2 separate regions of the Homo sapiens genome follow, and region 2 is linked to region 1. Evidence: fine-mapped expression QTL. Tissue or cell type: transverse colon. Region 1 holds a variant in brackets; the other region holds the start of a gene. All regions are shown on one strand. Distances are from middle to middle.

Region 1 (8,000 bases):
GAGAGTGGAGTACAGGAATATAAACATCAGTATAATTGTGACCTGAGGTCCCCAAGCTACACCCTGTGTCTGGAGACCTGAGGTCTGAAGGACTGTTTCTGCTCATTATATTCAGCTGGAGCCCCACCTAGGTTGTTGGGACCTCCAAGCCTTCCACACTTCCTGGTAGGAAATTATTCTTTCTCCTCAGTGAGTAATATCTAGAAAAAAATCAGCAGTCTCCACCCTCCCCAGATGTTATCACACTGGAATTATGGAGTTGGGTGGAGACATAAAAGCAGCTGAAACTTTTAGAGCAATCTGGCTCCAGCATCTGTCACCTCATTGATTGCAAGGGCTGATTCAGGTGATTTGGCCCTCAGTTCTCTTCCTCTTTCATCTCTCCCTTTAGGTTCTTCCCAAAGCCATGTGTTCAAATAAAGTTAAAGAGAATGACCTAGATGAAGATCTCCCTGGGAGAAAAAGAGTAATAAAAATGAAAAACAATAGCTGCTAAATAATGGGAGTGTACTAGCTGCCAGGCAATGTGGTGAATGCTTTCCAAACATTTTCTCTTCTAATCCTTATAATGGCCCTAGAGCTAGGTATTGTAATTATCTTTATCAGCAGTGAAAGCCTAGAAAATACAGCAACTTGCCCTAGAGCACCCAAATAGGAAGTGGCTGAACCAAGATTTCAAATTTAACCTGTGTTTTCTAACTCTTAAATAAACATCTTAACAGGAACATTTTTGGTAGGTCAATATTTTCTATGTGCCATTGTTCTTACTATGTAGTGAAAAAGGCAGCTTTCAGATGGTCCTGGCTTCAGTGATGGCTCCCAGGATTCCCAGCGACATTCAGCAAGATCTTCCCTGTGAGTGGCCTTCATAGATGCTTCGGTAATGGAGGCTGCTATTGATAGAGGTTCCTTAGCAGCTGCTCCACTGAGGCCCTCATTGCCCCACCCACTTTGGGCTTCATACTGGGGGTCAGTGCTAAGTATAAGGTCCTGATGGCTAGGATAGATGAGGAAAGCTATTTACTCAGCACAGTAGCAGGACTCTGGCTCAGGAGAGGGCCCATATCATGGTCAAAAATAAATTGGGAAAAGTTTAAACTAGGGAAGCAGTGTCTAGCAAAAGGCCAAAAAGATGAGAAATGACCTTCAGCAGACAAACAATTACAAGGTCAGTAGACACAAAGTATGCGAGCAGTTGAGAGCGTGGATGAAAGGTAGATTGGAACTGTATTACCATCCAGTAATTCCACTGAAATGGAACAGTGTGGAGAACTGGGAGTAATTAGTTCATTCGTCAGTTTGTCCGACTTCTCTTTGTTTCTTGTAGGGGGCTGGTTCCATAGAAAAGGATGGGTCTGTGGAGTAAATGGTCATGAGTAGTGCTAGCCACACACATTCTTTAACACTTCTGAATGCAGCAGGCCAGCTGGTCATTACTGTTACTGCCCCCTCATGGGAGACCAAATATAGCTATATCATTCCTCCTCCAAAACTGCCTTCTGGCAAAAGTTATCTCTTTTAAGAATTGTGTGCATTCTTAAATTGCATTAAGGGAAGCAAACATATGGAACAAGAAAGCACCTCACTTAGTTCCATTTGCTAAGCCCTTTTGCAGACCCACTGACCCTTCCTTAATTCCAAATGAAATCTCAAATGCTATAAAGAAACCCGCCAAATGGGTTACAGCAAAGACTTTTTTACACCCTACTGTTATGTTCAGAATTGGAAAAAGCTGGGGATTTGGCAAATTCCAAAATGTTGGGTCATATGAAAACTTTTTTTTTTGAGACAGAGTCTCGCTCTGTCGCCCAAGCTGGAGTGCAGTGACGTAATCATGGCTCACTTCAGCCTCGACCTCCTTAGTTCAGGTGATCCTCCTGCCTCCACCTCTGGGGTAGCTGGGACTACAGATAAGCACCACCACACCCAGGTAATTTTAAAATTTTTTGTAAAGATGGTGTTTCACCATGTTGCCCAGGCTGGCCCTGAACTCCTGGGCTCAAGCAGTTCACCAGCCTTGGCTTCCTAAAGTGCTGGGATTATAGGCATGAGCCACCACACCCAGCCCCATACGAAAATTTAGTCTCAGAATTAGCCTTTGCATGCGTCACCTGTAAGTTAATCAGAATGTTACTTTCAAAAGTTCCCTGCAGGTGAGGAAGCTAAAAGGTATTCTTGTATTTTTTTAAATGAAACTTCATAATAGAGGTGTAAACAGAGTCCATTCTCCCCAGCCTTAGAATCAGACAGCTTGAGTTTAAAACCCACTTATGAGCTTGAGCATACTACTGAACATAGAGTCACTTGTCTATGCCTCAGAGTCCCCATGGTCGAATGGAAAATACAGTGCCTACTTCAAAGTGTTATTGTGAGGATTAAATGAGATAATATATGCAAAGCACAGCGCCTGGAACATGGAAAGTGCTCCAGAAGTTTTATTGTTATTAACATTATTATTATTGCCACCATCATCATTAAACTTGGTAATTTTTACTCTCCCCAATCCTTTAGTTACTTTTTCAAACTTCTAGTTTTTTGCTTGGGCTCCATCTAATTGGCTGTGAGTCAAAAGAGAATTCACCACATCCAAGTGTTTTCTAAAGAATGTCTTTGGAAAATTCACAACTGATCATTTTGATACCAGCATCTAAGGTTAGGGCTACCTTATCCTTCATCACCTTCTTGTTTTATTCATAACACCACGATGTGGACTATTGATAAAATTATGTTTCAAAGATAACTAGCTTATTTGAAGCCATCTATAATTTCAGCCCAAACTGACTAATTAGGCTAACTTTCAGAAAGTTAAGTAAGTGTCTAATTCTCAGTTAACTTACTACCTACTGAGTAAAAATGTGCTGCCTTTTAAAATCCACAACTAACCTCCCTACTCAAGGCAAACCCCCTAGTTCTAATATTTGAAGTATTTAATGAACAAGCCTTTTTGGGGGTCCTCTTGTAGTTAAAACATTTATTTTTCTCCTTTTTTTTTTTAACTCTGTTTTTTGTCTTTCTTTTTTTTTTTTTTTTTTTTTTTTTGAGACAGAGTCATGCTCTGTCGCCTAGATTGGAGTGCAGTGACACGATCAGTCACTGTAACCTTGAACTCCTGGTCTGAAGCGATCCTCCCACGTGTGCCTCTAAAGTGTCGGGATTACAGGCATGAGCTACTGTGCTCAGCCTC[TA/A]CTCTGTTTTCTACCTTTTATTTGTTGCAAAAGCAACATGTTTATTTTAACAAATACTGGTCTTCCTCATCTTACTCCCCTGAGATTTCAATGTTAAAAGTTGATTTGTGTGTTTCCACGTAAGTCTTTATAACAAGCTTCTGCTGACACTCCTTGGCCCAGCTTTCCATAAACACATCCATCCCTACCTATTAGGTTGAACTGTACAAAATTGCCATTTTTATAGGTCCCCACTATTCTTTAATACCAAGCCTCAAATTTAGCCAGACACTAAATGTCCTGTTTTATATACACGCCTTATTCATTCCTTCTTGGTTTTGTTTTTGTGGCTTCACTTTTGCTGGATGGCCTCCACCCCCAACCCCAGCTCTACTCTGGCTGGACATTTTTTAACTCTCCTTCAAAGGTGTACATCCTGCAACTTCTTAAATTCCCTTTACATTCATTGTCTACATCACATAGTCTGATTGCCTATATAATACAATTTCGTGTTTTAGTATTTATATGCTATTTAATACAGATGCCACCTGTTTTGCTGCTTTTATTTTCTCTGGTTGCTTGATGTTCTATTACCTTAACTAGACTTTAGTGCTTTCTAGAAAAGGACAATGTGTAGTATATCTGTACTTATTCAAGTGCTGATCTAAGGACATAGGATGTAATGTAAAAGTTTATTCAATGACTATTTCAAAATACAAAGTCTCTCTTTGTATAAAGTCATTCACTAATACTGACATTGGCTGATACTTCAGACTGGAGATTCTCGGTAATATTACTTTTTCTTGATAATTAATTTTGATTATAAGAGGATTTAATATCATGGAAATAAATTATGCAAATGAACTCAGACCCTAGGTTCACTTCCCAGAACAAACCGTATTCTGAGAATACTTGTGGTGCCAAAATTTAGAGTGAAACCCCAGACTATTAATGATGCTCAAGTTACTTTACTCCAACACAATAAGTACTCAGTGATTTGTTACGGAAATTCAATTAAGTCTTCTCAAGTATTTTTTTTCTTTTCTTTTTTTTTTTTAATTATACTTTAAGTTTTAGGGTACATGTGCACATTGTGCAGGTTAGATACATATGTATACATGTGCCATGCTGGTGCACTGCACCCACTAACTCGTCATCTAGCATTAGGTATATCTCCCAGTGCTATCCCTCCCCCCTCCCCCCACCCCACAACAGTCCCCAGAGTGTGATATTCCCCTTCCTGTGTCCATGTGATCTCATTGTTCAATTCCCACCTATGAGTGAGAATATGCGGTGTTTGGTTTTTTGTTCTTGCGATAGTTTACTGAGAATGATGATTTCCAATTTCATCCATGTCCCTACAAAGGACATGAACTCATCATTTAAGAAAAAGTCCAATAAAATATCAGTCACTATTTTTAGATCTTCATTCTCAATGTTTGTAAAGCTAATACTAATATTAGATTAATGTAATTTTATCAATATTGATAATTACTTAGTATACATTGTGAACTTTGTTTTTTGGATGTCATTTAAAGGGTTATTTTCATGAGTTCCTAAGAAATAATTTAGGCCTTTAAGGTTATTTAACCCTTCAGTAGAAAATAGTTTCCTTGTTTAAGAAAATGATCTCCATCTAGTGGACAAATTTTTATATTACAGTATACAAAGAAAAATATTAAAGCCCCTAGAATATCTCATATCAAGCACTTCCTGACCTATTAATAAATGTTTTGGTTTTAGTGCTAATATTATGGCTTAAAAGTTGTAAGATTTAAAAATATCATAACTATCTAAATGACTTAAGGTATTTAGCAATATTTGTTTCAAAACTTATAGTGGAGTGTTAAGACTTGCTTGATTTAATTGGAAAAATTATAATTAAAGAAAAAATTACTGATTTATACAAATTTGGTGTTTACTCAGTTGAACTGAAAAAAACTAAACCAAAACTCACACTTCTGTATCTCTTACATTTCTGTTCATGCACAGGAAGGAGGGGGTATTTTCTTTTTTAAAGTGTAGCAATAAGAATATCTTGATATTAAAGGGAAATAAACATAAACATTTCTACAGGCATTCACATTACTAGGTCCTCCTCATGCTGAAAAGCTGCCATGACTATCTTCTTAGAAGAGAAATCTACTTTGCCAAACCCCCACTATTTAGAAGTTTTTAATGTCTTCCAGTTGTGTACTAAATACCTTCAAAAACCTTCTTAAATACTACTCTTCATGAAAACTTCTCAGATATCCCAGCCTGAGTTAGTCATTCATCCTTTATTTTTGTATCTTAATGCACTCATATTAAGTGCTTAATAAATGCCTATTTAAGCATATCCAAGGAGAGTTTGCCAAAGATCCCTAATGTATGTCTATTGAATGATTAGAGACCATCCTCCCCTTCCAGCCTTCCTGGGAATTGACAAGGTTTCACATACATATGTGCCTATCCTATTCTGGTGAAACAGATGTCCCCTGTTTGGGTGCCACATATATTTGTGGTTTATATAATCATGCAGTAGAGCTGGAAGGACTTTAGGAACAATCGATGATTCAATGCAGTTAGCTCAGTGACTGGTCAATTAACTTTTCTAGGACCTGGTATCCTCGTCTGTAAAGTGAGTCTGTTCGACTTGACAATCTCTCATTGTCCTTCCTGAACCAAATAAATATATCTATAAAGAGACACAATTCTAAGAAAATTTTAAGTTGGAAAAACATATTTACAGCTGCTCAAGATAATGAGTTTTCCCTCTTCTGTTTATTTGATGGATTATTTCGGAGCCACTGTTATTTGATCACAGATTCAAAAGTGATCCATGAAACATCTTCCAATCTTAGAGTCATAACTCTATTTATTAATGACTCCGATAAAGAAAATAAAGGAATGTTTTAAAATGAGCTAGTTAATAGTTTGAATAAAGATTCTAATGGGGAAAATATTAATGACAGCAAAACTTGAATTCACATGTTTATTTATTCTTTCAACAAGTTTTTCTTTAAAACCACACACCTGCTGGGCTATCATAAGCTATCACCCTCCTCTCCTAAGAACACATGAAAGTTGACTTTATTTTAATACTGGTTGATGTTTCACTAGAAAGGTTCTTTGTGGAAAGTTTATCTAGATTATAAGGACTATGACGTTAAGAACTGTGTGTGTAGATTTTTTCCCAGCTCTAAAATATGTATTGCTGAGCACAGTGCCTTTTATTCATTTAATCATTTACTCAAGACACTTGGGCACAGTTTTCAATGTGCCAAGAATACGCTGAGTCTCCATTTGTAGAGAGCTCACAATCTAGGAATGGAGACCGGGTGAAAAACATTTTCAATTCATTGTAAATTCTGTCATTAGGGAGTGGGAAAGTGTCTTGGGAGCGTAGAGAAAGGGCCTTTCATAAAGCTCTGATGTACCAGGGTAGCCTTTCAGGTGCAGGCTAAGTCTCAAGGATGAGTGACAGTTAGGCAGGGGAAAGGGGATTTGATTATTTAGGGGAGCAGGAGGTGAGGTGGTGATGGCCTGTGAGAAGGAGATAGTGCCTCAATATGAGTTGAGCAAGAAGTACCCAATAGCTGAGGATGGCAAGTTGAGGCTGGGGGCAACTAATTGCAATTGAGAGCAGATGGTTAGACTGGCAGTCTGGCAAAGAAATTTTGACTTCATCCTGAGAGCAATGGTAAGTTACTGAAGGGTTTTAAACTGAAGAATGACACTGGAAAATGGATTCAAGACACTAATATAAAGGTTGTTATAATAATATAGGTGAAATTTGATGGAGACCTGAATTTAAAATATTGGTAGTAGGGATGGAAGGAAGTGGGTACAATAGAAATTAATGCTTGGATGGATGTTATAGGGTAGGAGTGTGGAGGGAGAAGCCCAGGTTTGGGAGAACAGCATTAGGCACAAAATGGGTATTTGTTGAATCGAATTCAAATATTTGATGAATTACTGTGTATTTGTTATTTTCCGAAAGGAATTTTGTACTTAGAAGATTATGTTTTGCAGAGTGTTTCCCTTTTAACTGAAGTAGAGTTTGGAAAAACCTGTATCTTGTATCTGGTCAGTTAACAACAGTATCCAGGAGAACAAGAATGTGAAGTCAATGTGTTTTTCTTTTATGTATTTCAATATTATCATATTTTTATGGCAGAAATTAGCTGTAATTTTCATTCCTGCTAATTCCACTGTCAGTTCCTCAGCTGACGCTAAATGCTTTTTGAAAATATGAACATGTGAATGTTCACAGCAACATAATTCCTTCTCCTTCCTTTACAGTTTTGATGTGGACAATGGCACATCTGCGGGACGGAGTCCCTTGGATCCCATGACCAGCCCAGGATCCGGGCTAATTCTCCAAGCAAATTTTGTCCACAGTCAACGACGGGAGTCCTTCCTGTATCGATCCGACAGCGATTATGACCTCTCTCCAAAGTCTATGTCCCGGAACTCCTCCATTGCCAGTGATATGTAAGTACAAGGGCAGGCAAAGAGAGAGAAAACCGAGTAAATTTATATCTAGAGCTGATGACATAATAAAACTAATGACTTTTGTTCAACTGTATCACTCTCCTCCAATGTAGAAAGAATATGAATAAAATTATACAAGCTAGAAATGAATGGTAGATTTAACCTGAGTGCACTGTCACTCTTGATTAACACACACACACACACACACACACACACACACACACGCATGTATTTATTTTCCCAGAAAATACTTTATAGGAAAACTGAGAATTAAATTTTTAATGGAAACTAACACTTAAATCATTAGCTTATATTTATGTAGAGCCTGAGTTTTAGCTACCTAACTACATGGATATTTTC
Region 2 (8,148 bases), 760 kb after region 1:
TTTTTATTATACTTTAAGTTCTGGGATACATGTGCAGAATGTGCAGGTTTGTTACATAGGTATACACGTGCCTTGGTGGTTTGCTGAATCCATCAACCCGTCATCTACATTAGGTATTTCTCCTAATGCTATCCCTCCTCTAGGCCCCCACCTCCTGATAGGCCCCAGTGTGTGATGTTCCCCTCCTTGTGTCCATATGTTCTCATTGTTTAATGCCCACTTATGAATGAGAACATGCAGTGTTTGGTTTTCTGTTCCTGTGTTAGTTTGCTGAGAATGATGGTTTCCAGCTTCATCCATGTCCCTGCAAAGAACATCAACTTATCCTTTTTTATGGCTGCACAGTATTCCATGGTGTATATGTGCCACATTTTCTTTATCCAATCTATCATTCATGGGCATTTGGGTCAGCTCCAAGTCTTTGCTACTGTGAACAGTGCTGCAATAAACATACATGTGCATGTGTCATTATAGTAGAATGATTTATAATCCTTTGGGTATACACTCAGTAATGGAATTGCTGGGTCAAATGGTATTTCTGGTTCTAGATCCTTGAGGAATGGCCACACTGTCTTCCACAATTGAACTAATTTACACTCCCACCAACAATGTAAAAGCGTTCCTATTTCTCCACATCCTCTCCAGCATTCGTTGTTTCCTGACTTCTCAATGATCGCCATTTTAACTGGCGTGAGATGTATCTCACTGTGGTTTTGATTTGCATTTCTCTAATGACCAGTGATGATGAGCTTTTCTTCATGTTTGTTGATAGCATAAATGTTTTCTTTTGAGAAGTGTCTGTTCATATCATTTGCCCACTTTCTGATGGGGTTGTTTTTTTTCTTGTAAATTTGTTTAAGTTCTTTGTAGATGATGGATATTAGCCCTTTGTAAGATGGATAGATTGCAAAAATTTTCTCCCATTCTGTAGGCTGCCTGTTCACTCTGACGATAGTTTCTTTTGCTGTGCAGAAGCTCTTTAGTTTAATTAGATCCCGGCAAATGGGCACGGTTCTTTTAAATAAAAACTTATTGACAAATGTAAGAATTGGGCTTAATTTGGCCAGGGTTTTTATCATTTGTTGATGTGTCATGCATCATTTTATATATGAGATTATATCCATAGGATAAATTCCTAAGTAAGAGAATACATTCATTTCTAAATTTGATAGATTTGGCCAAATTACTTTTCACTGAAATTATATCAATTTCCATTCCCAACAGCAATATATGGAGTGCTGCTTCCTCAACACTTCAGCAGTTGAGCATGTTCACGGCAACTTTTGAGGGTTTTGCCAATTTTGTAGGAAAGGGTGCCTCAGTATATCTTTCATTTCAATTTCTCTTCTGAAGAGTGAAATTGAGCAAATGTAAGAACCATTTGTTTTCTGTTGGATAATTGGTATTTTATCCAATTGTAGGAGTTTTTATATAACAGGAAGATAAGCTCTTTCTCTGTGATGAGTTGAAAATAATTTTTCCAGTGTTATTTATCCTTTGACTTTATTTGTGGTGTTTTGTTATTTTAAATCAATGAAAGGGTTTTGTTTCTATATAGTTACATTAATGAATCTTGCTTTTTTTTTTTTTTTAGGGATTCTAGATTTTGTAAATAGTTGAAAGTTCTACCACATTCAGGCTATGAAAGAATTCTTTCATATTGTCTTAAAATTTCACGTATTTCAAACTTTCATTTGCTTGAAAATAAGCCAGATATGAAGCATGGATCCATTTTTTCCTTCCTACTGGTTACCAAATTGACTCCATGATATTTAGTAATTAGTCTACTTAATAGAAAGCGCATTTATTTCCTTTTTTGTTCTATAGACTACAATTTTGGTTCTGTCCACATGATGGCACCACAACCCCAAAAAAATCATGTTCTCAGTCGGAAAGAAGACAACATAAGATTTACACAGCGTTAATATTTTATTAAATGCCTCCATGTTGTGGCAGACAGACCTGAATTTCACATGGAATGTTCAACAGTTTATCAAATACTGAAGTCCATTTGGTAAAGATACATACCATAGTGTATGCTAATCAAAGAAGAAATTGACATTTAAAAAAAAATCATGACAATCTATTCTTCAGTTTTTTATCTTAGGCCACAAATGAATACACATACACATACACACATATGTATACATATACAGTTTATTATCAACCATAAAGACATGGTGTGTAAACTAGCTTTGATAAATTCTAGTAATATTTTCTAAACCTGCAAGCCTTCTACATCTTAGAGAGTAGGTTTGCACAAATCTGGGAAGCAAAGGTCACCCCTGGGCTTATGAATAAAGAGGATAATTACGTAATTCTGAATTTCCACCCCTAAGCCCCACCCCTTATTCCATCCCTGACAATCTTGGGGTTAAAGTCTATTGTCACTTATGAGAAACATGCCTGGACTTGCCCTGCACTCTTTAAAGAATCAAAAACGGAAGTGACAGCAAAGACTTTCCCTTTCTCCTCGCTAATGGCAAAGCCTTTCCCTTTCTCCTCTCTAATGGCAATAAGCCTCTTTTCCACATTATGCTGGAAGTATTTGAGACACAGTATTTTTGTAAATGTTCGATTAATGTTGATACCACACATACCTAAATTTGACAGTGGACTGCAGCAACTTTTTGTATGTACCTTCCAGGGATTCAATAATCTGGTATTCTAAATTTCTCTGGAATTTAGCTTCAAAAAACTATTTACCATATCCTGTTAACATAGGTAAAAAGATTCAAGTGTGCTGCTAATTAACCTAACCTCGATGATCTAGTAAAAATATACAATAATTACCTAAGTTCTCCAAGCCTCATCTATAAAATGGGAATAATAATGTAGGAGATGAGAATATGCCACCCCAAATATGGCCCTGGGATAAAGATTATTTTAAGATAATTATTTTGAGAACCAGCAGACCCAGGAAATGCTCTAAAAATGGCATATTACCCTTTCGTAAGGGAAACGTACATTCACTAAAAAAAAAAACAACAAAAACAAAAAACAAAAAAACCCCACAAAACTCCATTTGTAAAAGTGTCTCCTCTGTACCAGGAAGAATGACTCTAAATCATGAAAAACTTATCAATGAAGAAATAAGAAACCCCACTCCTGTTTACCGTACATTTCCTGGTCATGATTCCTTAACTTGCCTGCCCCACTCTTTTCTTTTGGTTTAGCTAAAGATAGTATTTAAGCCCGATTTTAAACCATCTCTAATTTTCCTGGTTATCTCCCATGTATATATGAGACGTATATGTTAATAAGCTTCTTTGTTTTCTTGTTAATCTGTCTGGTTACAGCGACCCAGGCCAAAACTTTGAAAGGTGGAAAATTATTTTTCCTTCCTTACAATATTTCTCTCAGAATTGTTGTAGGATGAAATAAGGCATTTAAAAATACTGCACAGTCCTCAATAAATGTTACTCTATCGTAATTAGAACAAGAAAAACAAACAAAAAAACGTGTTCCTAGATTAGTCAAACTGCACAGCAAAATCTGGAAATGGGAAACTAAGCTGTGTTTGCACTCACTGGCCTACGCTCCTCTCTTCATCCTACCAATCTCCCTACCCCAGAAAGTCTCAGATTGACTCTCCAGGAACCAGGGCAGCTCATGAGCCATCTCAACAGATGCATTCGGAAGAAGTCATAGATGACTCTGATTGGAAACTCACAATCGGCATCGATGTTTAGTACTAGTAACTGTCAAAGGCCCACGGTTGTCAACCGCTGCCCACTTCGACACCTAACGGCATTCCGGAACATTCCACAAGATGGCGCCCTTGCTTTCCAATCTTCGGGCTACGGGCGGAGGACGCCTTGCCAGGACGCCGACCTCGCTCTGCAAGGTTCAGGGGCCGACCTCAGACAGAGGCTCGCTCTAGGGGCATGGGCGGGGGCCAGACGGGCCTCGAGTGGGATCCTGGCACGGTTGGCCGATCGGCCCGGGATCCCGGCTGCGGGCCCGTGTCTGCCCTAGCGCGATGGGCTCGAATGCCCGGCTCCACGAATCCCGGCCTTTCACCCCCACGGCCTCTCGGCACTGCCCCAGCTAGACACCAGCGAGCTCGTCACAGCGCGGGCAGGCACTGCGGGGCAGCTGCAGACGAGCCCTGTCATACGGCCGGAGGAGGCCTCGCCTGCCCGTGCGGCGGGCTCCGGGCACCCTGATACCTTGACACAGGAGGCCCCGGGCGGCCGGGAAGGGCTGTGCGGGGGAGGGACTGCGTCTACACCCGCGCCCGACTCGCTCGGGTCACGGCACTGCCCTGCCACCAGGCGGCTGGGGCGGGGGTGAGGCCAGGCGTCGGCCCTCGCGATTCTGTTTTGTACGCTGAGGCTCGGAGCCTTCGAAGAACGGGACAGCGGGGCCCACGGACGGCTCTGAAGGCCTTCCCGCGGCCGCAAGAGATCTCGGCGGCCGGCGTTTGAGGCGCGCGGCTCCGCTGGGAAGCGAGACCCGGGTGGCGGGACAAGACTTGCTTCCCGGCCACGCGCGCTCGGCCGGCCGTGGGGCGGGGCATAGGCCGTGACGTGATGTCGCGTATCGAGTCTCCGCCCCCTTCCCGCCTCCCCGTATATAAGACTTCGCCGAGCGCTCTCACTCGCACAAGTGGACCGGGGTGTTGGGTGCTAGTCGGCACCAGAGGCAAGGGTGCGAGGACCACGGCCGGCTCGGACGTGTGACCGCGCCTAGGGGGTGGCAGCGGGCAGTGCGGGGCGGCAAGGCGACCATGGAGCTTTTGCGGACTATCACCTACCAGCCAGCCGCCAGCACCAAAATGTGCGAGCAGGCGCTGGGCAAGGGTTGCGGAGCGGACTCGAAGAAGAAGCGGCCGCCGCAGCCCCCCGAGGAATCGCAGCCACCTCAGTCCCAGGCGCAAGTGCCCCCGGCGGCCCCTCACCACCATCACCACCATTCGCACTCGGGGCCGGAGATCTCGCGGATTATCGTCGACCCCACGACTGGGAAGCGCTACTGCCGGGGCAAAGTGCTGGGAAAGGTGACAAGCGGAGGGCGCCGGGCTGCCGGGCGGGCGGGAGGTCTGTCCGGGCGACCCCAAGCCGGGCAAGCCCGCGGGGTCCCTCGCCCGCCGCTTCCGGGTTTTTCGGGGGTCCGATCCCAGCGCGAGGTGGGCTCCTCACCTGCCCTCTGGCTTTTGTGCGCCGGCAGCGCTGGGGATCGGCTTTGCATTCTTAGCCTCAGAACTGTGTGTCTCCCGCAGCCCAGAGAAATGCATCTTGAGTCTGGAAGCGAGGGCTTTCTACATCAGACCTCTCTCCCTCTATCTGCTCCCAGGGAATTTTCCTGACAAGTCTCATCAGAGATTATTTTTCATGTCTCCCCGTTCCAACTCCCTCCATAAAGCTCCCCTTTATAAAAGAAGAAGAGAAACTGTTTGAACTTGCTGTTTCCAGCAATGCATTTCTCTTCATGAGGGAGCTTTAACGAAGTCGAATGCCTCCCTCTGTCCACCCTCCTCCATTCCTCAATTTTTTTTTTTTTGCTTTTCTTTCTTCCCATTTATTTATTTATTTAAAATATCTGCCGTCCATTTTTGTGCCATCCTCAATTCCGTCTCGGCTTTGTTTCCTTTCAGGGTGGCTTTGCAAAATGTTACGAGATGACAGATTTGACAAATAACAAAGTCTACGCCGCAAAAATTATTCCTCACAGCAGAGTAGCTAAACCTCATCAAAGGGAAAAGGTGCGTATGACTCTTGAGTAAAGTATTTTCTTTGTGTGCAAGGATGGCCCTTCCCTGTTAGGAAAATGTCTTCTGCATGTGTAATCACTGGCTTTTCCGAGGTGACTGGAAGCTAATAAGCCTTACCTTGCTTTTTCATTTAGATTGACAAAGAAATAGAGCTTCACAGAATTCTTCATCATAAGCATGTAGTGCAGTTTTACCACTACTTCGAGGACAAAGAAAACATTTACATTCTCTTGGAATACTGCAGTAGAAGGGTAAGTGTCAACTCCTATTTGAGAACATTTGCTTACCCCGAATTAACATGGTATTCAAAGAGTATTTTATCTGGGATTTTAGCTGTGGCAGCACTTACACTGCAAAGTTAACTTTCATTGCTCATCCTGCAAAGGGAAACCAGTGATTTTGATAACTGTTTTGACAGATTCTCTTTTTTCCTTCTCCTCTTCTTAGTCAATGGCTCATATTTTGAAAGCAAGAAAGGTGTTGACAGAGCCAGAAGTTCGATACTACCTCAGGCAGATTGTGTCTGGACTGAAATACCTTCATGAACAAGAAATCTTGCACAGAGATCTCAAACTAGGTAAGTCATTGACGCCAAAAGCTGAGTTTTGTGTTAGAGTTCTTTTTTCTCTCTCTGTTTTTTTTTACATATTAATGTTCTTAATTGGGATCTCGTGTCTGCAATCTTGCTTTTGAATGGGCGACTTTCATATAACAATTGGCTGCCTGGCTCCAAAGTGGATGTGTGTGTACTTGGTTAGAACGCATTTTCAAAGGGATTCACATTTTGTTTTGTTTATCGTCTAGGGAACTTTTTTATTAATGAAGCCATGGAACTAAAAGTTGGGGACTTCGGTCTGGCAGCCAGGCTAGAACCCTTGGAACACAGAAGGAGGTAAGAGTCAGAAAGATGCATCCTAGTAGACTTTTGTGGAGACCAAATATGCCTTCATTATTTTGCATTTAATGTTTCAGAGGTCCGGTAATAAAATCTATAAATCATAGCAATGTTAATTTAAAGAAATACTTATTAAATGCCCACTATGGACTAGACAGAGCACCCTGTGCCTCTAAATTGATTATGAAAGCAGTCAATGAAGTCTTTTCTTGGCTTAAAATGTATAAAATGCCACGACGTCCCTGGCTTTAGTTGGTTAACAACACTTTGCATGTGGGCTAAAACAACGTGTGTGCATTTTTAAAAATTACCAAAACTCATTTGGTCAGATCTCAATTGAATTTTCAGATGCCAAAAGTCAAATGTTTCCAAATAGAAATTCAGTATAGATTTTAAGATTTTGTTTAAGATTTTGTCTCCCATCAAGTCATGTCAAGAGAACCAAGTTTAAGTAGTGGAATAGTTCCTAACACGATCTCAATATTTTGTCTTTCCAGAACGATATGTGGTACCCCAAATTATCTCTCTCCTGAAGTCCTCAACAAACAAGGACATGGCTGTGAATCAGACATTTGGGCCCTGGGCTGTGTAATGTAAGTAAATGCAGCAGAATAATTAAAAAGCAAATTCGGATTTAGATTTTAACACTTGAAAAGAGTTGCTTTATGACCATTGCTAAAGATGTGTTTCTTTGCACACAGGTATACAATGTTACTAGGGAGGCCCCCATTTGAAACTACAAATCTCAAAGAAACTTATAGGTGCATAAGGGAAGCAAGGTATACAATGCCGTCCTCATTGCTGGCTCCTGCCAAGCACTTAATTGCTAGTATGTTGTCCAAAAACCCAGAGGATCGTCCCAGTTTGGATGACATCATTCGACATGACTTTTTTTTGCAGGTTGGTGCACTATCTTTTTTTTTTAATTACCTGGTATTGATCCCAGTTACCTGACAGGTTACTGAAGGCTTTTTCTAATATTCCACAGGGCTTCACTCCGGACAGACTGTCTTCTAGCTGTTGTCATACAGTTCCAGATTTCCACTTATCAAGCCCAGCTAAGAATTTCTTTAAGAAAGCAGCTGCTGCTCTTTTTGGTGGCAAAAAAGACAAAGCAAGATATATTGACACACATAGTAAGTTAACAAGACTTCTTTTCCTTTTTCGTACCCAATATTATATTTAAATTTGGTAAATTAGTTAAAAGAGAATTTTATATTAGCATAACTTGGCCATATTTGCGTATTCTTAAATGTTGATATTTATAGCATAATAAATCCATACCTTGAATTGTGATTGATAGCTTTTTATTTTGCAAACACTAAAGAGGGCTTTTGGGGGTAGCTGCAGCTAAAGGCAAAGGTAAAATGCTATTTTTGCCCAGGATGCTCATAAGTTGGTCAATAATGCAAGAAGGAGAAAATATGACTAACCCTGTTCCTACCTTGTTAAGATAGACTAATGTTTGTAATTCTGTTTCTTGATATACAGATAGAGTGTCTAAAGAAGATGAAGACATCTACAAGCTTAGGCATGA

Which allele goes with the higher level. Positions count from the first base shown, and alleles are read on the strand shown. Sizes are in standard deviations (SD) of each study's normalised expression.
For the expression in transverse colon of the gene that starts at base 4,606 in region 2, TA is the high allele of the variant in region 1 and A is the other (small effect, 0.24 SD a copy in GTEx).

The links. PIP is the estimated chance that this variant, and not a neighbour inherited with it, causes the effect.
Region 2: it holds the start of PLK2, and the variant in region 1 is fine-mapped to the expression of PLK2 in transverse colon (GTEx, PIP 0.93).

What each region holds. Positions count from the first base shown.
Region 1 is chr5:59,215,417-59,223,416 of GRCh38, reverse strand. PDE4D (phosphodiesterase 4D) reads left to right here. Exons shown (of 15, transcript NM_001104631.2): 2 at 7,449-7,640. Among named protein-coding and RNA genes, the nearest start is that of PDE4D-AS1, 180 kb to the right of the region's middle. The variant TA/A (reference allele first, on the strand shown) is at 3,185.
Region 2 is chr5:58,456,544-58,464,691 of GRCh38, reverse strand. It overlaps PLK2 (polo like kinase 2), which reads left to right and starts at 4,606. Exons shown (of 14, transcript NM_006622.4): 1 at 4,606-5,002; 2 at 5,600-5,707; 3 at 5,851-5,967; 4 at 6,164-6,293; 5 at 6,521-6,608; 6 at 7,109-7,204; 7 at 7,313-7,511; 8 at 7,600-7,747; 9 at 8,103-8,148. The coding sequence starts at 4,733. RefSeq lists silencers at 4,109-4,288, 6,316-6,610 and an enhancer at 7,262-8,148.